Regions from separate parts of the Homo sapiens genome. Here all the other regions are linked to region 3. Evidence: fine-mapped expression QTL. A gene starts in region 3. Each other region holds a variant in brackets. All regions are shown on one strand. Distances are from middle to middle.

Region 1 (6,296 bases), 90 kb before region 3:
TTAAGCCATTGGTGTCTCAGCTCCAACTCCTCCCTTCTATGCTCAGCTTTGTGATGTCAGGGCAACTACAACTGCATTTTGCTTTGCCAGCTGGACCCAGATTGGCCTTTGGCAAGAAGGGGAGCAAAAGGGAGACTGCAAGGCTAGAGGAGGAGGAAAGGATGAGTTTCCTCCTGTCTGCTCACTGCTCCTGTGAGTATCATCCTAGCAATGCTTCTTCACCCCGGCAGCAGCACTTCCTTTCTGCAGAAGCTTTTGAATGTGGTTTGCAGTTTGCAGTTTTTCTAGCACTTGCAGACCTGACCTCATACGGCCCATCTCATATTCACCAGAACCAGTGCAGAGCCCCCACCTTGAAGGTCTGAGTTTTAGCTCCAGGTGCCCCACCTCTAAGTTCCTACTTGTTCCCTTTCTTATTGTTTCTTTAACCCTGGGAGTGGACGCTGCAGTTGCTACCTCTATGAGACCTTAGAGTTCTCTTTTTATCCTGTTACAACTTTATAATGAACACATTTTTACCTAGTTAACACTTTTTATATTAAATTCTTACTGTTCAGCTAACTTGTGTGTATACTATCTCTTGGCCAGACCCTGACTACACTGGTGAACTTAAATAGAAAACTAACTTCTTGAAATGATCCTGGGTGGTTTATAGGATAAACAGAATGGCCTGAGAACGAGGCTTAAACAGATGGAAGCCCAGCCATGTTCATCCTGCAGGAATCATCTGGGCAAGACAAGCTCCTAATGCCTTTCACATTGCTGCACCCACCATCACCACCACAAATCCCAACATGCAGAAGATTATGAACAGACAGATAAGGCTCGCTCTGCAGATAGGTAGGGACAGGACAGTAAAGAAATTCGGAGGCAAGTTTTTAGACAGTTACACTTTTCTTAGATTCATCTCTCCAAAAAATATTTATCAAGTACCTTCTATGTGCTAGGCATCAGAAGGGAACAAAAATAAATGACATGGATCTTGTCTTAAAATCTAGACCACTGTTTCTCAACATTAGAATTTATCAAAATCTGGGATACTGTCAAAAATACCTCACCTCTGGAGATGCTGGGTCATTGCAGCGGGTGTGGAACCTACAACATATACTTTTTAACAAGCATCCCAGGTGATGCTGAAGTTGGTAGCCCACAGACCACTTTGAGAAACATTGATATTACAAACAAAAAAAAATATGCAGCAGACACAAAATCATGTGTAGGGGAAGAAAAATCATTGTTTCCTCAATCCTCATAGGTCTTTTAAAAACAAACAAACAAAAACGGAGTCTTGCTCTGTTGCCCAGGCTGGAGTATAGTGGCGTGATCTCAGCTCACTGCATCACTGCAACCTCCACCTCCCAGGTTCAAGTGATTCTCCTGCCTCAGCCTCCCAGGAAGCTGGGATTACAGGCACCCACCACCATGCCCAGCTAATTTTTGTATTTTTAGTAGAGACGGGATTTCGTCACGTTGGCCAGGCTGGTCTCGAACTCTTGACCTCAGGTGATCCACCCACGTTGGCCTCCCAAAGTGCTGGGATGACAGGCGTGAGCCACCGCGTCTGGCCACCTCATAAGGTTCTTAGTTGGAATAGACCCCATTTAAAAAAAAAATACACACACACACACACACACACACACACACGAGAAAAACAAGTTTATTTACATGTATATTTCACATCTACATGGCAGACACCCAGGAAAGGAGTAGTTCTCATGGCAGACACCCAGGGAAGGAGTAGTTCTCAAAGAAATAGCTTTGAATTCCAGCTTGTATAGCATCTTCAACAAAGAATAGTGATTTTTAGAGAAGTGACAGGACAAAGGAAAAGGACTTTGGGTCTCTAGAGGGGACTTCTCTGCGGGGAAGCAAGTAACCGGCAGATAAAAGCGAGTTGGTAAAGCATGTTCAGGTAGATTCCTCTGGCTCCTACTCCTGGCAGATAATGGTCTAAAACTGTCTTCAGTGGTTAACCTTTGTTCTCCCTGGTAAAAGACAGGGGCAGGATGTCTTTTATCTTGTAAATCTCTGTCCTGCATTTAAGCAAATGGAGGGCAGAGAGCTTTCCTGCATCTGTTTCTTCTTAATTGTCTTCAGCTCGACAATCCTCCTTTTGGAGTGGCATGTTCTGGACTCCCACACATGTCTGGAAGCAATGGTCAATTTCCCTAGAATGTAGATTTATTGATTAAAAAGAGACAAGGAAGAATTTCTTAGGAGGTCAGTTTTATGCCACTACAGGACTTCAGAAAAAGAACAGATCCTTCCTGCTTGATTTTAGGCAATAAATGCTTCCTATCTGACTGATCAGAAGACCACAGCCTTTAGAAAATATGACTCAAAAAATATTTTTCTTTGAGTTTTTTGACCAACCTTAAAAAAAAGTCCTGCAGGATATTTTCACTTAGGAATCACCAACAAACGTATTTTTTGTCTGTTACCACAAGAAAGCGTATCGGGTTTAAATATGTTTCTTTAATCGTACCCAGGCGAGCCTGACACTTATACTCTTTTGTATTCCTATATTCTTTCTTCCTCTTAATACATTTTTCTTCCTTCTTTCCTGGCTCCAAACCCCTAGTTTTCTCCCTTTCCTAATTGATGATTTTTTTCAATTCTTCAGCCACAGGTGCCCGATAAAATGGCCTTCAATCTCTGCCTTTACTTCCAGCGTATTACCTCACTCCCTCTCAAACGCCAATTAAAGGCTTTGTCCATTCCTGCTTAAAAAAATAGATGAAGGAAAATGAGATCTTTCTACCCAGAAAGACAAGTGCTTGGAAATTGCTAATTAGGTAACCAGAAATTCTGTCAATAATGAGCCCCAGGCTGGGTGCTGTGGCTTACGCCTGTATTCCCAGCACTTTTGGGAGGCTGACGCAGGCGGATCACGAGGTCAAGATGTCAAGACCATCCTGGCCAACATGGTGAAACCCCGTCTCCACTAAAAATACAAAAATATTAGCTGGGCATGGTGGTGCGCGCCTGTAGTCCCAGCTACTTGGGAAGCTGAGGCAGGAGAATCGCTTGAACCCAGGAGGCGGAGGTTGCAGTGAGCCGAGATCAGGCCACTGCACTCCAGCCTGGGCGACAGAGTGAGACTGCATCTCGAAATAATAATAATAATAATAAGTCCCCTCCCCTTGCCTGCCAAAGTGACTCCAATAATCACTCGACATGGACTTAAGAGCTGGTTTGACTTCCCATCTAAATTGCCGTGGCTCAGTGGCTCATGCCTGTAATCCCAGCACTTTGGGAGGCCAAGGCAGGCAGACACCTGAGGTCAGGAGATCGAGACCATCCTGGCCAACATGGAGAAACCCCGTCTCTACTAAAAATGCAATAATAAGCCAGGCGTGGTGGCGCATGCCTGTAGTCCCAGCTACTCGGGGAGGCTGAGGGCAGGAGAATCGCTTGAACCTGGGAGGCGGAGGTTGCAGTGAGCCACGGTCACACCTCTGCACTCCAGTCTGGGCGACAGAGCAAGACTCTGTCTCAGGAAATAAATAAATTGCAAGGAAAGGCAAAACAAATCTCACTGTGAATGTGGCTTGTCCATTTGCTGTAAAAACAG[T/C]CCTATTGCCTCCCTAGTGTGAAGCATCAGGTCCTGCTAAGAATGCTGGGTGGAAAGGCCTCTTTTGGAAACATGGCTTTGCTTTGGCAAATATTGTTGCTGATCTACCTGGGATAAGAGCTTAAGGTTCATTCTTACCTTGAGGAAGCAAAGGGGTTTTCATGTGTGTGAAATAGAAAATACCTTTCACGTTGCAAAGACGTTATTTTGAAAAAAAAAAAAAAAAAAATCAGGCCCAATGTAATGGAGAAGAGGTAGCACATCAACAAGATTCTGGAATAAATACAGTACTAACTCCCATCCCCCTGAGTACTAGCTACTAGTAAAATGAGATATCATGTTTCAGGCTTGACAGGGTCTCTGTTACAAACCATTCTTACATTCCTGGGCACAGAGCTAGTCTAAACATTCATAGAGCTCTTCAATTATATTTTGGCTCTTATATCAGCAGAGTTGAAGAGGAAAACAATGGCAGGGCATATGGGCCTCCTTTCACATACAGAGTAACAGAAACCCCAACTCAAAGGTCTTTTCAAAAAGGAAATATACTTATTCATAAAAAGAGAATTTCAGAGATAAAGCAGACTTTAGGTTACCCTCAGTGATGTTAGCAACAGCTCAGATTTTCAAATCCCAGCCCACAATCTATACTGACATCTTCATCTTGAAGTTGGCTGTCCTCCTAGGTGTAAAGTGGCTGCCAATAACAACTGGACTTTCTCTCTAAGGAGGGAGGAAGGACTTCCTTGGAAATCACAAGCAAATCTCTCCCCGAGGCTCTGCAGCCACAACTTGGTCACATTTCCATTTCTAAACCAATTCTTGACAAAAGGGAACATATTATCCTTAAATTATTTCAGCCCAGGATAAGCTTTCCCTCTGATACTTGGCCGCTTAGTGGAGGGTGGAGGGTTGGAAAAAGTCAGGCCTCTGTTACAGGAAGAAGGAGAAATGCTGAGTGGGCTACCAACAGTGTCCCCCACCTGGAGGGGGAGTCTTCGCTGAGTAGGAGCTTGAAATGGCTAAGTTAAAAACGGAAGTACATCTGAGGACCCTTCCAACTAGCAGATTCCAAGAAGACTCAATAATGCCTGATCCCAAATCCATTCTGAGCTGAGGCACTGTGTAACATCAGCAAACTGTGCAGGTTCTGCAAGAGGCACAAAGATAAATAAAAATGGTTCCATCTGGACTTTATTGCACAGTGAGAGTCATATGAGGTATCTGTAAACAACAAGAAAAGGTAGAATCACTTTGTGGGAAGTTTGATCCACAAGTAAGACTTCTGTGATGGTTAATTCTGTCGACTTGATTGGATTGAAGGATGCAAAGTATTGATCCTGGGTGTGTCTGTCAGGGTGTTGCCAAAGGAGATTAACTTTTGAGTCAGTGGGCTGGGAAAGGCAGACCACCCTTAATATGGGTGGGCACCATCTAATCAGCTGCCAGCACAGCTAGAATATAGAGCAGGCAGAAAAATGTGAAAAGACTAGACTGGCCTAGCTTCCCAGCCTACCTCTTTCTCCCGTGCTCGATGCTTCCTGCCCTTGAACATCAGACTCCGAGTTCTTCAGTTTTGGGACTCGGACTGGCTGTCCTTTCTCCTCAGCTTCCAGACAGCCTATTGTGGAGCCTTGTGAGCATGTGAGTTATTACTTAATAAACTCCCCTTCATATAATATTTTATGTGTGTATATATATCCTATTAGTTCTGTCGCTCTGGGGAACCCTAATACAACTTCCGAGGAGGGAGATCACTTCTGAGCAAATTATGAGGAATGGCAGCAAGAAGAAGGTGGCTTCTGAGCTGAGCCTTGTGAGAGATCAAATTTTACATAGTATGGGGGACAAGCATTCCTGGGTAAAGGGACAGCAATGGGGCAGGGCTAGTTAAAAAACAAGATGAGAGCATTATCTTCAGTGTAAATTGCTCCCCCACCAAAAGGACAAAGTGTCTGACTCACCACCTAGTGACTTCACTGGATGTTCTCCTTCTGCTCCACAATCCACCCCTCATTCTTCTCCACCTTCTTGTTCTGTGGCCCCAGAGGCTGGCCTTATGGACTGTATCAACTAGGCCACCTTGTTCCTGGTGTGAATTGGGTTCGACTAAGATGGTATGGGCAGGAGATGACAGAGTGAGAGGAAAGAGAGTTGGAGGTATGATTCCTCCAGCGTGCTCCTTGCCAGACTGTAGGTGGGCAGTAGCCATATTCCTCTAGCAAAAGCTATGGCTTTCCCCAAACAGCCCTTCCCCATAACTAGTGACATGGGAGTTGGGCAGGGAAGTGCTGGGTAGAGAAGGGCCAGGTCCCTGGTGAGGGCTCCACCCTCAAGCCTGTGCCACAGATCTAAGTGGGAACAGGCACTCCTGTTTTCATGACTGAATGTTGCATTTTCCAAGACCACCCTGGCCAACCAAGCCCCCCATCCTGTACCCATATAAACCCAAGACCTTAGTGGGTACACACACAAGCAGCTGAATGTCGAGACCAGCAGACCAGTGACAGCAGAACGATGCAGCAGAGAAGAAAAAGAGGGACGTCTTGATGCCGAGGGAAGGTCGGCCAGGGGTGGTTGGAGAAGGGTCCGGCTGCTGGGCAGCCCAACTCCAGGGAAAGATTATTTCCCCCACCCCTTCAACTTCCGGCTCCCCATCCATGTTGCTGAGTGCCGCCTCCATCACTCAATAAAAACTTGCACTTATCCTTCGAGCCCATGT
Region 2 (6,296 bases), 110 kb before region 3:
ACCTGTTTGGCATTACCCAGAAATGCTAACATTTCTACCACTTTAACTAATCTTAAGAGATTAAATCACACTCCATGATACTCCTGACAACAAATAGCATTTTAACCAGTAATTTACGATAAGAAGATTTTCAATCAGTGGGCTAAGCCCTTCCCTGGTGATTTAAGAAACTGCCAGCCTCGATGGAGATTCTTCCATCAATTCCTCATCATTATAAAAGAAACAATGGAGGAAAAACTCATCCAATTAAGTGACAATTCCAATGTGTAAATCTTGTAATATTTTTTGCATTTGTGATATGGGTTCTACACTAAAAATGCAACTTGTCTAATCTGAATGAGATGAAAAATCCTGAAAAAGGATGTTATCCTCAATATTTTGTTTGTGCCTCTTGATTTAGTAAACTCCCAACCACTTTTTCATCCTTCCCTGCCAAACCCCGCTACAAAATGTTTCTCATTATGACCTGAGACATTAATTCTGATTGTAGAGGTTTTAGATCATTTCTTCTAGGTGTTAATCAGTTCTGGCCATATGGTGAGGGTGAGGTAATCATTATTACTTTACAATGAATGCCCTTAATTACTTTTTCAGTAGTAATATTAGTCCTTCTGTTTATTTGAGTACCTAAGAGCTGCAGGCAACGTGATCTGAATTACATGGAGGACAAGCTCCAGCTGACTTTCCGTAAACTCGCATTAGGATTCTAATAGGAGACGACAGGAGCAGGTGGGGATAATGAGCTGGCGGAAGGGGCTGCCTATCACACTGCTCGGTGGCCCCTCTTTCACCCCCACTTTGCCTCAGGCATTTTCTACTCAGCTGTGACCTTACTTATGGTGATGCCAATCCAGTGGTCAGGAGCGAGGCGCCCAGCCTGTGTCTGAATCCTCCTACTGACCCTGGGGATCCGTGCGACTTGATCTTAGATATTGGTGGTGAAGCGCCGCTCTCCTTGACAGCATCCAGGAAAGGTAATTACCTTTGCCAAAATGCAAGTGGAAGTTCAAAGCCTCAGCCTTGAAGAGTGTCCCTGGAGACTTCCAGGCCCCCAATGTGAATGTGAAGCCCTCCTGCCCAGTGGGGCAAGGCGCCGGATTGACCTTCGCCTGAGTGGGAGGGCAGTCGCTGTTTGGGTCCACGTTAGGGGCGGTCCAGGTCAATTTAACTTGTCATATGCCACGGGAAGACATAAGGTAAGTTAATGATTCTAAGATGAATCAACTGCTCTTTGAGTCAGTCAGTATCTCTTGAGAATTCATTCACTCAATCCATGAATGTTTTTGACTCTCTACTATGTGTTATGGAACTGGGCTTAACGACATTGAAGTAAAGAGAGAGACAGAGATTAATTCACTGCCCCAAAGAAGGCCTGGAATCTTCTTAGGGAAAAGAATCCTCACAAAACACTCCACTGAGTATTCTTGTGTTTAGCCTGAGTCATGTTGATTTGAAAAATTCCAGCGTAAAAATTGTATATTTTCACACAGTGTGGTAGAAGGAATGCGCTTGTTCTCAGACTATGTTTTGCCCTGGAGATGGGTCCACAGGAAGCCTCTATCTTGGTCACCCTTTGGCACAAGCTTTGCACCTGTTCCCTTCTCCTTGCCTAGATTCTTGTCTCTTCTCTCGCTTTAAAGACCAGGAGTTGTTGTTGTTGTTTTAGAGATAGTATCTTGCTCTGTCACCCAGGCTGGAGTGCAGTGTCACAATCATAGCTCACTGCAGCATCAACCTCCTGGCTTCAAGTGATCCTCCCAGAGGAGCCTCCCGGGTGGCTAGGACTACAGCCATGTGCCATCAGGCTTAGCTAATTTTTTTATTTTTTGTAGAAATGGGGTCTTGCCATGTTGCCCAGGCTGGTCTTGAACTCCTGTCCTCAAACGATCCTCCCACTTCAACATCCCGAAGTGCCACCCATGCCCAGCAAGACCTGGATCCTTAACTCTTTGCCTGTCTTTGATCTTTGACACCTCCTGATCCCCAAGCCCCTGCCTCCCACTAGGCAGGCATTTTTGGTTAAAGTATGAGCTCCCACTTTGTATTTATCTCCAGCTTTGGGTGTTCAGTTTGATGGGAACCACAGGTGTCCCCACCTAGTTCTCCAGCCCTAATTTGTTTTCTCCCATGTTGCAGTTCCTGGCTTCTTCCCATTTGCCCACACCCTCATTGTGGCACAGTGCCCCAAACTGACACATGCCACAGGCTCAGAGTATCTTCTGATATGAAGAATGACTCTGGTCATTCGAGGGCAGAGAGGATTTCATGACCTTTCCCTGAGAACAGCAGCATGAACTGCAGGGTCAGCAAGGGGGTTGTGTCTGCCTGCTGCTAAGGTCAGATGCAGACAGCCCATGTCAGGGAAAGCCCATTTAGCATAAGAAGAGTAAAAAGAAGAAAATACCTCCTCAGCCAGGGGTACTTTGATGTGAACCAATACAATTAGTCTCTGAATGATGAATATAAATGATAATCAATGACGTATATGTGCTTAAAAGAAGGTGAGAAAAGATTATCACTGCCTAAACCTTCCTTTTAAAGGATGCCACAAGTGCATGGGTGGAGCATATAGGGTAGATAGGATTTTTTTTTTTTTTTTGAGATGGAGTCTAGCTCTGTCGCCCAGGCTGGAGTACAGTGGCGTGATCTTGGCTCACTACAACCTCTGCCTCCTGGGTTCAAGCGATTCTCCTGTCTCAGCCTCCCAAGTAGCTGGGATTACAGGTGCACGCCACCATGCCCAGCTAATTTTTGTATTTTTAGTAGAGACAGGGTTTCACCATGTTGGCCAGGCTGGTCTCAAACTCCTGATCTCAGGTGACCTGCCTGCCTCAACCTCCCAAAGTGCTGGGATTTCACGTGGAAGCCACTGTGCCCCAGCAGGGTAGATATGATTTAAATCTTTTTTTTATTATTGTTTTTTTGAGATGGAGTTTCACTCTTGTCACCCAGGCTGAAGTGCAATGGCACGATCTCAGCTCACTACAACGTCCACCTCCTGAGTTCTAATGATTCTCCTGCCTCACCCTCCCCAGTAGCTGGGATTACAGGCACCCACCACCACATCCTACTAATTTTTGTATTTTTAGTAGATACAGGGTTTCATCATGTTCACCAGGCTGGTCTTAAACTGCTGACCTCAAGTGATCCACCCACCTCACCTCCCAAAGTCCTGGGATTACAGGCATGAGCCAACATGCCTGGCCGACACGATTTAAATCTAATTAGATCACTGGAAGATACAGCAAAGTCTCAAAGTGGTTGTCTATGGATGGCACTATGAGTTACGTATTATTTTTCCAAAGCTCAGAATGTTCTGAATTTCTTTATTTTTGTTATTCATTTTGAGATGGAGTCTTGCTCTTGTTACCCAGGCTGGAGTGCAATGGCTCAATCTTGGCTCACTGCAACATCCGCCTCCTGGATTCAAGTAATTCTCCTGCCTTAGCCTCCCAAGTAGCGGGAATTACAGGCACCTGCCACCACTCCCAGCTAATTTTTTTGTATTTTTAGTAGAGTCGAGGTTTCACCATGTTGGCCAGGCTGGTCTCGAACTCCTGACCTCAAATCATCTGCTTGCCTCAGCCTCCCAAAGTGCTGGGATTACAGGTGTGAGCCACTGCAACTGGCCTGAATTTCTTTAAATAGAGAATCTCTATTGCCTTCATAATAACATGTTTTAAAGTTAGTTTTTATTTTAAATGTTAATTTGAAGTCAAAATGCTTTTCCTCTGACTGGGTGTTTAATGCATTTAGGAAAGGCTGAGCATGAAGCCAGGGTCGGGGGATACAGCCTGTTTGGAGGGGATTGTAGAAACGGAGACTCCCAACT[G/A]GGATTGACAGGAAAGGGTCAGAGCCCAGAGAGATGCCTGCTGGAAAAGAAGTGACATGGTTGAATATTTGCCCGGCTAAGTGTCATGCTGGAATGTGATCCCTAGTGTTGGAGGTGGGGCCTAATGAGAGGTGATTGGATCATGGGGGTGGATTTGTCATGAATAGTTTAGCGCCATCCTCTTGGTGCTGTCCTTGCGATAGTGAGTGAGTTCTCACAAGATCGGGTTGTTTAAGTGTGTGGCACCTTCTCTTGCTTTCTTGCTCTCACTTTTGCTGTTCGATGTGCCTGCTTCTACTTTGCCTTCCGTCATGAGTGAAAGCTCCTTGAGGCCTCCCCAGAAGCCGAGCAGACGCCATGTTTCCTGTACAGCCTGCAGAACCATGAGCCAATTAAACCTCTTTTCTTTTTTTTTTTTTTTTTTTCTGAGACAGAGTCTTCGCTCTGTCGCCCAGGCTGGAGTGCAGTGGTACGATCTTGGCTCACTGCAAGCTCCGCCTCCCGGGTTCGTGCCATTCTCCTGCCTCAGCCTCTCGAGTAGCTGGGACTACAGGCATCCGCCTCCATGCCAGGCTAATTTTTTGTATTTTTTAGTAGAGACGGGGTTTCACCATGTTAGCCAGGATGGTCTCGATCTCCTGACATTGTGATCTGCCCGCCTCGGCCTCCCAAAGTGCTGGGATTACAGGCGTGAACCACCGCGCCCGACCAACCTCTTTTCTTTATAAATTACCCAGCCTTAGGTATTTTACAGCAATGCAAAAACAGCCTAATACAAGAAGTAAGAGGAAAGATGATACCAACTTACCAGTAAGGGTACTAAGATGACACCCAAGTAAAATGCAGAACAGTTATCATTTCATTTGCTTGGCAGAAGGAGGGTGACAGTTTGTAGGGAGATATAATCCAACCAAATTGTTTAGGGAAATGTGAAACCAAATGGTTTAGGGAAAATATGATGAAATTCAATATATTTGAATTTGGGAATATATTCAATATATTTCAGTCCAATATATCCTTACAGAGTGAGGTTTGGCATGGTACCACTGTGGATCATTTGTCTTCTATTCAAAAGAAGGACAATGTCTATGTTAATGTTATGGTTCAGGAACCTAACAGCAAGTACAGCCTGCAGCCTGCACTCCCAGCCGCTCCTGCTTACATGAGACAACAGTGAGCCACAAGACAGTGTCCCCATCTGAACATGCTTGGCCCTGGGAATCATTAGGGACTCTTAAGAAGCAGAAAGTCCTGACCACCTAACAATGAGCACCAGCTTTTCACTTAATAGTTTCTGAATATTCACCAGGTCAGGTTTTCTTTTGTTTGTTTTGTATTTTTTGAGACAGGCTGGAGTGCAGTGGCACATTCACGGCTCACTGCAGCCTTGACCTCCTGGGTTCAAGTGATCGATCCTCCTGCTTCAGCCTCCTGAGTATATTATATAATATCTATATTATATGGATATATATTATATAGATATATATCATGTATAATATAGAGATATCTATATTATATAGATATATATTATATAGATATATAATATATAATATAGATATATCTATATAATATAGATCTATATTATATAGATATATCAAATATAATATAGATCTCTATTATATAGATATATCATAGATAATATAGATCTATATTATATAGATATATCTATATAATATAGATATATATTATATAGCTATATATATGCTATTATATATTATATATACTATAGATCTATATTATATATTATATAGCTATAGTATATATAATATAGATCTGTATTATATATAACATATAGCTATATAATATATATAATATAGATCTATATTATATAGATATACATATTATATATATTATATATAATATACATCTATATTATATAGATATAATATAGATCTATATTATATAGATATAATATAGATCTATATTATATAGATATACATATTATATATATTATATATAATATACATCTATGTTATATAGATATAATATATATATATATCTATATCTCAAGCAGGCCACTGTGCCTGGCCTGCTTGCTTCTTTTAACCTATGCTATTCCTATTTTTACCTTGACCTTAAAGCTGATTGGACTTCATTTTATGAGAGGATGCTGTGGCTTACCCAGGTCATAACCATTAAATTTATCACATTAACCAATGTTTAACCATGATCACAGATTACTGAGAATACTGGCAAGAAAATGAGTAACTACAAAATTGCAACAGGTTGTGTGCAATTAAATTTTTTTTTCAAATATATTTTAGGTTAACATTAAACATTCCAGTTATAATCTCTATTCTGCAGTTGATGCAGAGTTCGTGTTTTAAAAAAAGAACTGCCTTCACAGAAATGTGGACTTATATACTTTTATATAATAAACTTTATATTTTTAGAGCCATTTTAGGTTCACAGTAAAACTGAGCAGAAAATAGAGATTTCTGGTACCTCTTGCCCTCACACATGC
Region 3 (6,296 bases):
GTGAACCTTAGGAAATTGTCTCTCACCCCACAGCACAGACCACCTAGTTTAAAGGCACATGTGAACAGGCAATCAGGGAGAGATCACAAAGCTTGGGTAGAAGGTGTAAGGTGGGCTTCCTGGGAGGGGGTGTGAGCTGGATCTTGAAAAGTGAGCATGATTTGGAGATGGAGGAAAGAAGTGGGAAATGGTATCTGTTAAGGGAACAACTGAAGGAGGCCCTCATAAATGGCGACTCACAGCTCATCTGTGGGCCAGTGAGTACAACCAACAGGACCGGATGGCATTGAGAGTTCCTTCTGGGAAGTGGCAGGAAATAAATTTGGAAATGCAAGTTTGGACAAGATCTGGTAAACCTTAAGTGCCAGGTCCAAATTTGGATTGAACACTATAAACAATATGGAACCACTGAAGCTTGAAAGGACAAAATTATAATGATGAAGGTATCAGTTTAGAAGGAATAATCTGCCATCAGTCAGGACACAAGTGGAAGGATAAAGAGATAAGAACCAGGAAAAGCATTTAGAAGGCTAAAGGACCAACATAAGTGTGGGAGAATATCTTAGTAAAGGAGTGGATATACACAGAATCATGAGTCACTGGGTCAGGTTATGCCACTGATCAGGCTGAGTGATTTGGAGCAAATTGCCTAACATCTCTGAGCCTTAGGTTTTTTCATTGAAAAAATGGGTATGATGATGATAATGACTGACCCAAAAGAGGCAAACGATTTCTCTACGATGGTGACAGCTCTGGGATACAAGGTGAACGGGCCAGGATTTTGAGTCTGTTTCCAGGTCTGTATGAATTAAAGAATGTGTTATGAATGGCAACAGAGACAACCACTTTGTGGACGATGAGGAAGGGAGGGGAACTAATGGTTGGTGAATGTTCCACGAATTACGTGGGAATTATAAATAAATTACTCTTCACACTCTTATGAAGTAGGTATTTTTATCTCAAATTAACAGTTGACCTTACTAGAGCAAAAGATAGTAATTTGAGTTACTGGATATGACTCAAATTTGGGTAACTAGATACAAACCAAGGTCTAAAATCTAAAACTTGGGCTTTTCCAGCTAGTACATCATATTTAGATTTGAAAGTTATATTTTATTTCATTGCTTTTGGCCTAATGTTGTAGCCTGTTGAGACTGTTTTGAACTTTGATTCTGACATCTATCAAATTAATTATCCCTCCAAACTTTGGGTCATCCGAGAGAGACATCAATTTTGCTGAGTTGGGGGGTAAAGATGGAGGAAGGATGTTTTAAAGTAGAAAGAGAGCAGCAGGTGGCCTTGACTTGTGAGGTAGGCGGCAAGGTTATCTGCGCAAAGTAAATGCAATCTGGATGTTAAGTGGACGTAAAAGTCGATGGAATAAATTTGCTGCTAAGAATGATCGTGTAGGCAGGTGGAGAGTAAAGAATAGAAAGGAGTTAAGAACCAGGAATGGAGGCAGTGAGAAGAGAGAGGGTGGTGTGGGTGGACCAAATACTGCTATTAAGGAAAAAGAGAGGGTGGAGGAAACAAACAATACAGGGAAGGTTGACCCACTCAGCCCTTCTATTCAGCTGGAGGAAGTCACAGAAAAGGAGGCTATATTGAATGGTAAGATTGGAGAAGACTGGTTAGGGAATAGGAAGATAAGCTGTTGTCTAAAAAACGCAGTCTCCAGTAAAAGGAAGAAATTGGGACATTTTTTTAAAACCCCACATAGGTACACTGGAAAACATGGGCCACAGGGATAAACCTTCCATTTTTACTTCCAACCTTACCATGTGCTCACAAAAAAAGGTGTTAAATACATGTAAGTTTTGACGAGGTTATTTAAAAGTGTAGGATATAAACCAAGAATTTTTCACACCCCAAAACCCCGCACAAATTAAGGGATTACATATCTGAGTGACAAGTACATACAAACGCATTACTTCTAGAGATACTTAGATGTAGATAAAAGACCACATTTCAATAGAAGGATCACACAGACCAGTGGGATGTTTCTTCTGAGATAACCCACTTTATGCAGGAAACAGTGTGGACTCTGGGGACGGCCTCTGCTCTGGCTGAGGATTTCTGTCCCAGAGCGGTACAGGAATCTGCGTAGTGTTTTAGTTTGGAGAAAACAGGAAGTTACACTCATCACATCTTTTGCCCAGATGATAGAATTCGAAATCCCCCCGGGGTTGTTCATGGAATGAGCCGCTCTGTTATGTTGTGAGCCGTGGTATTAATCAGCCACCCCTCACTAGGTGTTGGGGTTCCACCACGCTTCCTCCACCCCCCGTCACCACAGCAGCGGGTAGTATTTAGGTTGAATATTCCAAATAGTCAATTATGACAGTTAATTTCAAATGAGATGACTTCGAAGTACACGTGAAAACAATACTATTTTATATCACGACTCATGCCATCCGTATGTGTAATCAAAGCCTTCTAAGTCTTGATATGTCCTTACAAAGACGAAGGATAGAGTGAATGTCAAAATTTGCCAAACAGGAGTTACTGAAAGTCTGAAGGGGAAAGCCTAGTTAGGTTTTATCTTAGAAGTGATTTTTAAAACGAAACACGCAGATAAGCTCGAGCTTTCTGGAGCCGATTCCTAAGGCCTTGCAGGTGGTAAGGGGGTCGAGAATTGGCTGAGGTTCCTCGGAAGTCCGCGCCGATTCGGAGGGCCACCTCTGACTTTCTGATCTGGGGTGCAACCCCCAGTCCCTGTCCCGGTCGACAAAGGTGTGGAGTCAGGTTCCAGGCAAGCTGGGGGTGGGGGTGCGCACAAGGGAGGGGCAGGGGACTGGGACCCCCTCTTCTTCGGGGTGCTTCGGGCCGTTTCTCCAGAGGCTGGTGGTGTCCCCGACCCAAGCAGCTCAGCCCCGCTCGCGAGGTCCGAAGTGGCGGGAACGGGTCCTCCGCGGCGGTCCCAAGGCGAGGGAGGCTGTAAAACCTGGCAGAGAATCCGGCGCGCCGGGTCGGGGATGTCTCGGGTGCCGGGGGCAGGGGCCGCAGGCTCGCAGGTAGAAGCTTCCCCACGCGAGCGGGGGCCTCGGCCGCGGAAGGGGCGCCCCCGGGGCCGCCGGCAGCGGCGAGCGGGCGGGAGGGAGCTTTCCGGGCCCCTCCCGCGCCTCGGGCTGGCGGGGCGATGGCGACGACGGTTTCCCGGCTCCCCCGCCCCGGACGCCGATGGCGGTGCGTTCCGGCCCTCCCCCAACAGCTTCTCCCCCGCGGTCGCCGGAGCCGGTGAGGCCGAGAGGGCGGGGAGCCGCGCAGGGAAGGCGAGAGGGCGGAGGTTGCGTGGTGCAGGCGGCGGCGGCGGGAGGAGGAGGGCCGGGCGGGCAGGGGAGGAGGAGGAGGCGGGCGCCGTGTCGCACGCAGCTCCAGGCGGGGCAGCCCCGGTAGCTGAGGGACGCAGCTAGACCTTGGCGGGACGGGGCTTTCGCCGGGGCCCAGGCCCAGGGACCAGGCGGAGGCGTCGCGGGAGCCTTTGGGGCACCACAGAGATGCGGGTGAGTGTCGGCAGCCGCCGGGGCCGAGAGGAGGTGGCGGCGGCGGCGGCGGCGCAGGCCCGGCCCCGAGCCGCGGTGTCGCAGTGACTCGGGCCGCGACGGCCGAAACCAGGCGCCTGGCGAGGCCTGAGCCGCCGAAACGCGGCCGGGCAGAATGGCGGCCGGGCCGGGGGACTCGTGGGCGGAGGACGCCGAAGGTGGCAGAGGAGCGAGCGGGGCCGGGCCCTGAGTCACCCCGGACGGGCCGGGGCGGCCAGGCCTGGACTACGCACTGGGAAAAAGCACGATTCATCGCGCCTGGAGGCGGCGGCCTGGTGGCGCCGGCCCCTTTCCCCGCCGCGACCGGGCTGGGTTCTCGGAGGGTGGGCCGACGTGTGGCCCGGGGCGGCTCGGGCGTCCGCGCCTCGCCTGGTGAGGCGACCTCCGCGGGACGCCGGGACCCGTGCCCTTGCCCCCTCGCGCCCACGCTTCTTCCCGGCGCTGCTTTCCGGCCGACGCGTGTTCCCCTGTGAGCTCTGGGCTCAAGCGCAGGAGCAGCCGCGGAGCCGGGCTCTCTCGCTTTCCGGTTCCCTGCCCGCGGCTCTCGGGTTCCCCGCCTGCATTGTTGCGAACGTGCAGGGCGCTATTATTGGGTAACAGTCGCCCTTTTGCCCCGTTCTCCTGGGAGAGCGGGCCGGGGCATGCGCGCAGGGATGCTAGCCCGGCGGCCGAACCGGACAGAGCCCCCCGGCGCCCGCCTATCGCTCGCTAGTCGGGCCGGGCCCTGCGCTGCGGCCTCGGCGCGCCCCCGGTCCCAACGGGAGCGCGCGCCCTGACCCTGAGGGTAGCCGTGCGCCCGCCAGGCCGCTGGGACTTGGGGTCCCCAGACTCGGGGGTCGTCGCTTTTTTTTCCCTTAAGATCTGAAAGACCCCCGTTTCTGCCACCCGTGCAGTATTGTGTAGCGCAGACATAAGATAAGAAAGAGAGGAATGCTTGTAGACATTCCTTGAAATGAATCCCCAAAGTTAGGGTTTTCTCCCTGGCTGGCTTTGCCAAAAAGAGGATTCTCTTTTCCGATTGGGTCACTCTTGGTTGCTTCTGGTTCGTAGTAGGGGTTAGTGGTAAGTGCGCAAATACTGAATTGCAGTCTACTTAAATATTTGTTTGCTCTGTGTAATTGCTCTTTCCTGTAGTAGCATTAAAATCGTCAAAAGTTCTGAGTGGAGTAAACGATCACACTTTTTGGAATGCACTTAACGAAGCGGCAGAAGAGGAACTAGATTCCTTTTTTACTTCAAGCCATGAGCTTCTAGGACCTAAGCATAGCTTAACGCCTCGCAGAAGTGTGTGCAGTTTTAAGTTTAACACTTCATTTCATGGTGCACCCGAAAATGTACCCGATTTTCTGAAATCCTGGAGAGTGTATTACGTAGTAAAATATGTAATGATGTTTAAAATGTAAAACCAGTCATTCTGTTTGAAAAAGATATTTGGAGATGAGATTTTTCTTTGTTTAAAGAAGGTTTGTTTTTGGATATTGAAAAATGTTTTACTTGAAGGTTCTATTTGTTGTTTTCCATGGTGAGTCGAAATAGTTGCGTTACATTTCAAATTCCAAAGCATGCAAACACAAGACTGGCTCGCTTTAACTCTATTAATGCCCATTTTTGGAGGTTTCAGGAGAGTGTTCCTTAAGCTTGAGAGGGATGGCTGAATTGCTTTCTAAATATGTTAAACTTTTTTTCTCATTGGCTTCATCTTTTAAAAACGATTTTGTCAAAAAACAAACCAAATTTAGATATGCTAGGGTTTTTCACCAATTTATAAAAGCCTCCCTCCCTGAGAGCCACATGCTCAGGTCCTTATAGCCAGCCCCACCCCCCACTCCTAATGTGTGTACCACATCAGAAGACAGACACGCATGCCTGAGCTGATTCTGCATGGTTTCCTTAGATATTACAGTTCATTAGACTCTTGCCACTTACTGAATATTATCTTCTAGCTGTAATTAACTACATGACAGCCTTATTTCCCATACATTTCCGATTGTGAATTCCTCCAGCGCAGGAGATATTCCTTATTTGTTTTTGCGTCCCCAGAGTAACAGAACTTGGTTGTGGTGGTGCCTCAGTTGCTTTTTTTTAATGAATGAGTTTTCTGGAATAATTCTAACTTAAACTTAACGTTTGAAAACATGCGCTGATTTTTGGCTACAGAAAACACAGTCGTTGTGCTTAAGCCGGTTAAGAATTCAAGCTTTATTATACACTTCTCGAGTAAAATTGATCGTCTCTCTCATCCCTCCTTTTCTATTCCCCCTTCCCTCTTCACTTCCCTTCTCCCTGAAACACCCCAGTATCTAGTACAGGGCCCTAACAGAAAAATGCCCAGGTTTTCTATACCTATGGAAGTCTGGGAAAGTGCCAAGAAAACAGGTTGTGAAACTTTAACTTTTTTCCCCCTTAAAACTAGTTTTAAGGTGTGGATGTTTTTACTTTTTGTGTTTGGTGTTTTTTTGGAAACACGATCAGGTTTTTCCCCCCAGGTTGAGTATCCAGCCTTGCCTTTGCAATGAAGCAGTTTGGTAGTTAAGGCTCCTCCTTGTAGATGAGGCAAGCCCCATGGTTCTGCTGGAGTGGGATAGGAAGTTGCTGTAGGAGGAACCATCCCTTGGTCTCTGAGGGCCATTCATCAGAATGTCATTCCCAGTATACCCAGTGGTGTCTGTCTTTCAGCATGGAAAATTAAAATGAATGTACTTTAAATTGAGGAGTTGTTACTTGCCATTCTTCAAATTAAAAATATTAGGGCCT

Evidence for each region. PIP is the estimated chance that this variant, and not a neighbour inherited with it, causes the effect.
Region 1: its variant is the best candidate, but not a certain one, in a credible set for the expression of CUL1 in whole blood (INTERVAL, PIP 0.87).
Region 2: its variant is the best candidate, but not a certain one, in a credible set for the expression of CUL1 in whole blood (INTERVAL, PIP 0.54).

What each region holds. Positions count from the first base shown.
Region 1 is chr7:148,605,320-148,611,615 of GRCh38, forward strand. All of the region lies in intron 1 of C7orf33 (chromosome 7 open reading frame 33), which reads left to right. It overlaps LOC124901818 (protein GVQW1-like), which reads right to left and starts at 3,089. Exons shown (of 3, transcript XM_047421175.1): 1 at 2,962-3,089. The coding sequence starts at 3,089. RefSeq lists enhancers at 1,920-2,639, 5,871-6,296. The variant T/C (reference allele first, on the strand shown) is at 3,575.
Region 2 is chr7:148,589,934-148,596,229 of GRCh38, forward strand. It overlaps C7orf33 (chromosome 7 open reading frame 33), which reads left to right and starts at 833. Exons shown (of 3, transcript NM_145304.4): 1 at 833-1,196. The coding sequence starts at 993. RefSeq lists a silencer at 3,990-4,190. The variant G/A (reference allele first, on the strand shown) is at 3,833.
Region 3 is chr7:148,695,527-148,701,822 of GRCh38, forward strand. CUL1 (cullin 1) reads left to right here and starts at 3,377. Exons shown (of 22, transcript NM_003592.3): 1 at 3,377-3,503. RefSeq lists silencers at 2,232-2,291, 2,952-3,981, 4,282-4,381 and enhancers at 2,562-2,611, 3,679-4,404.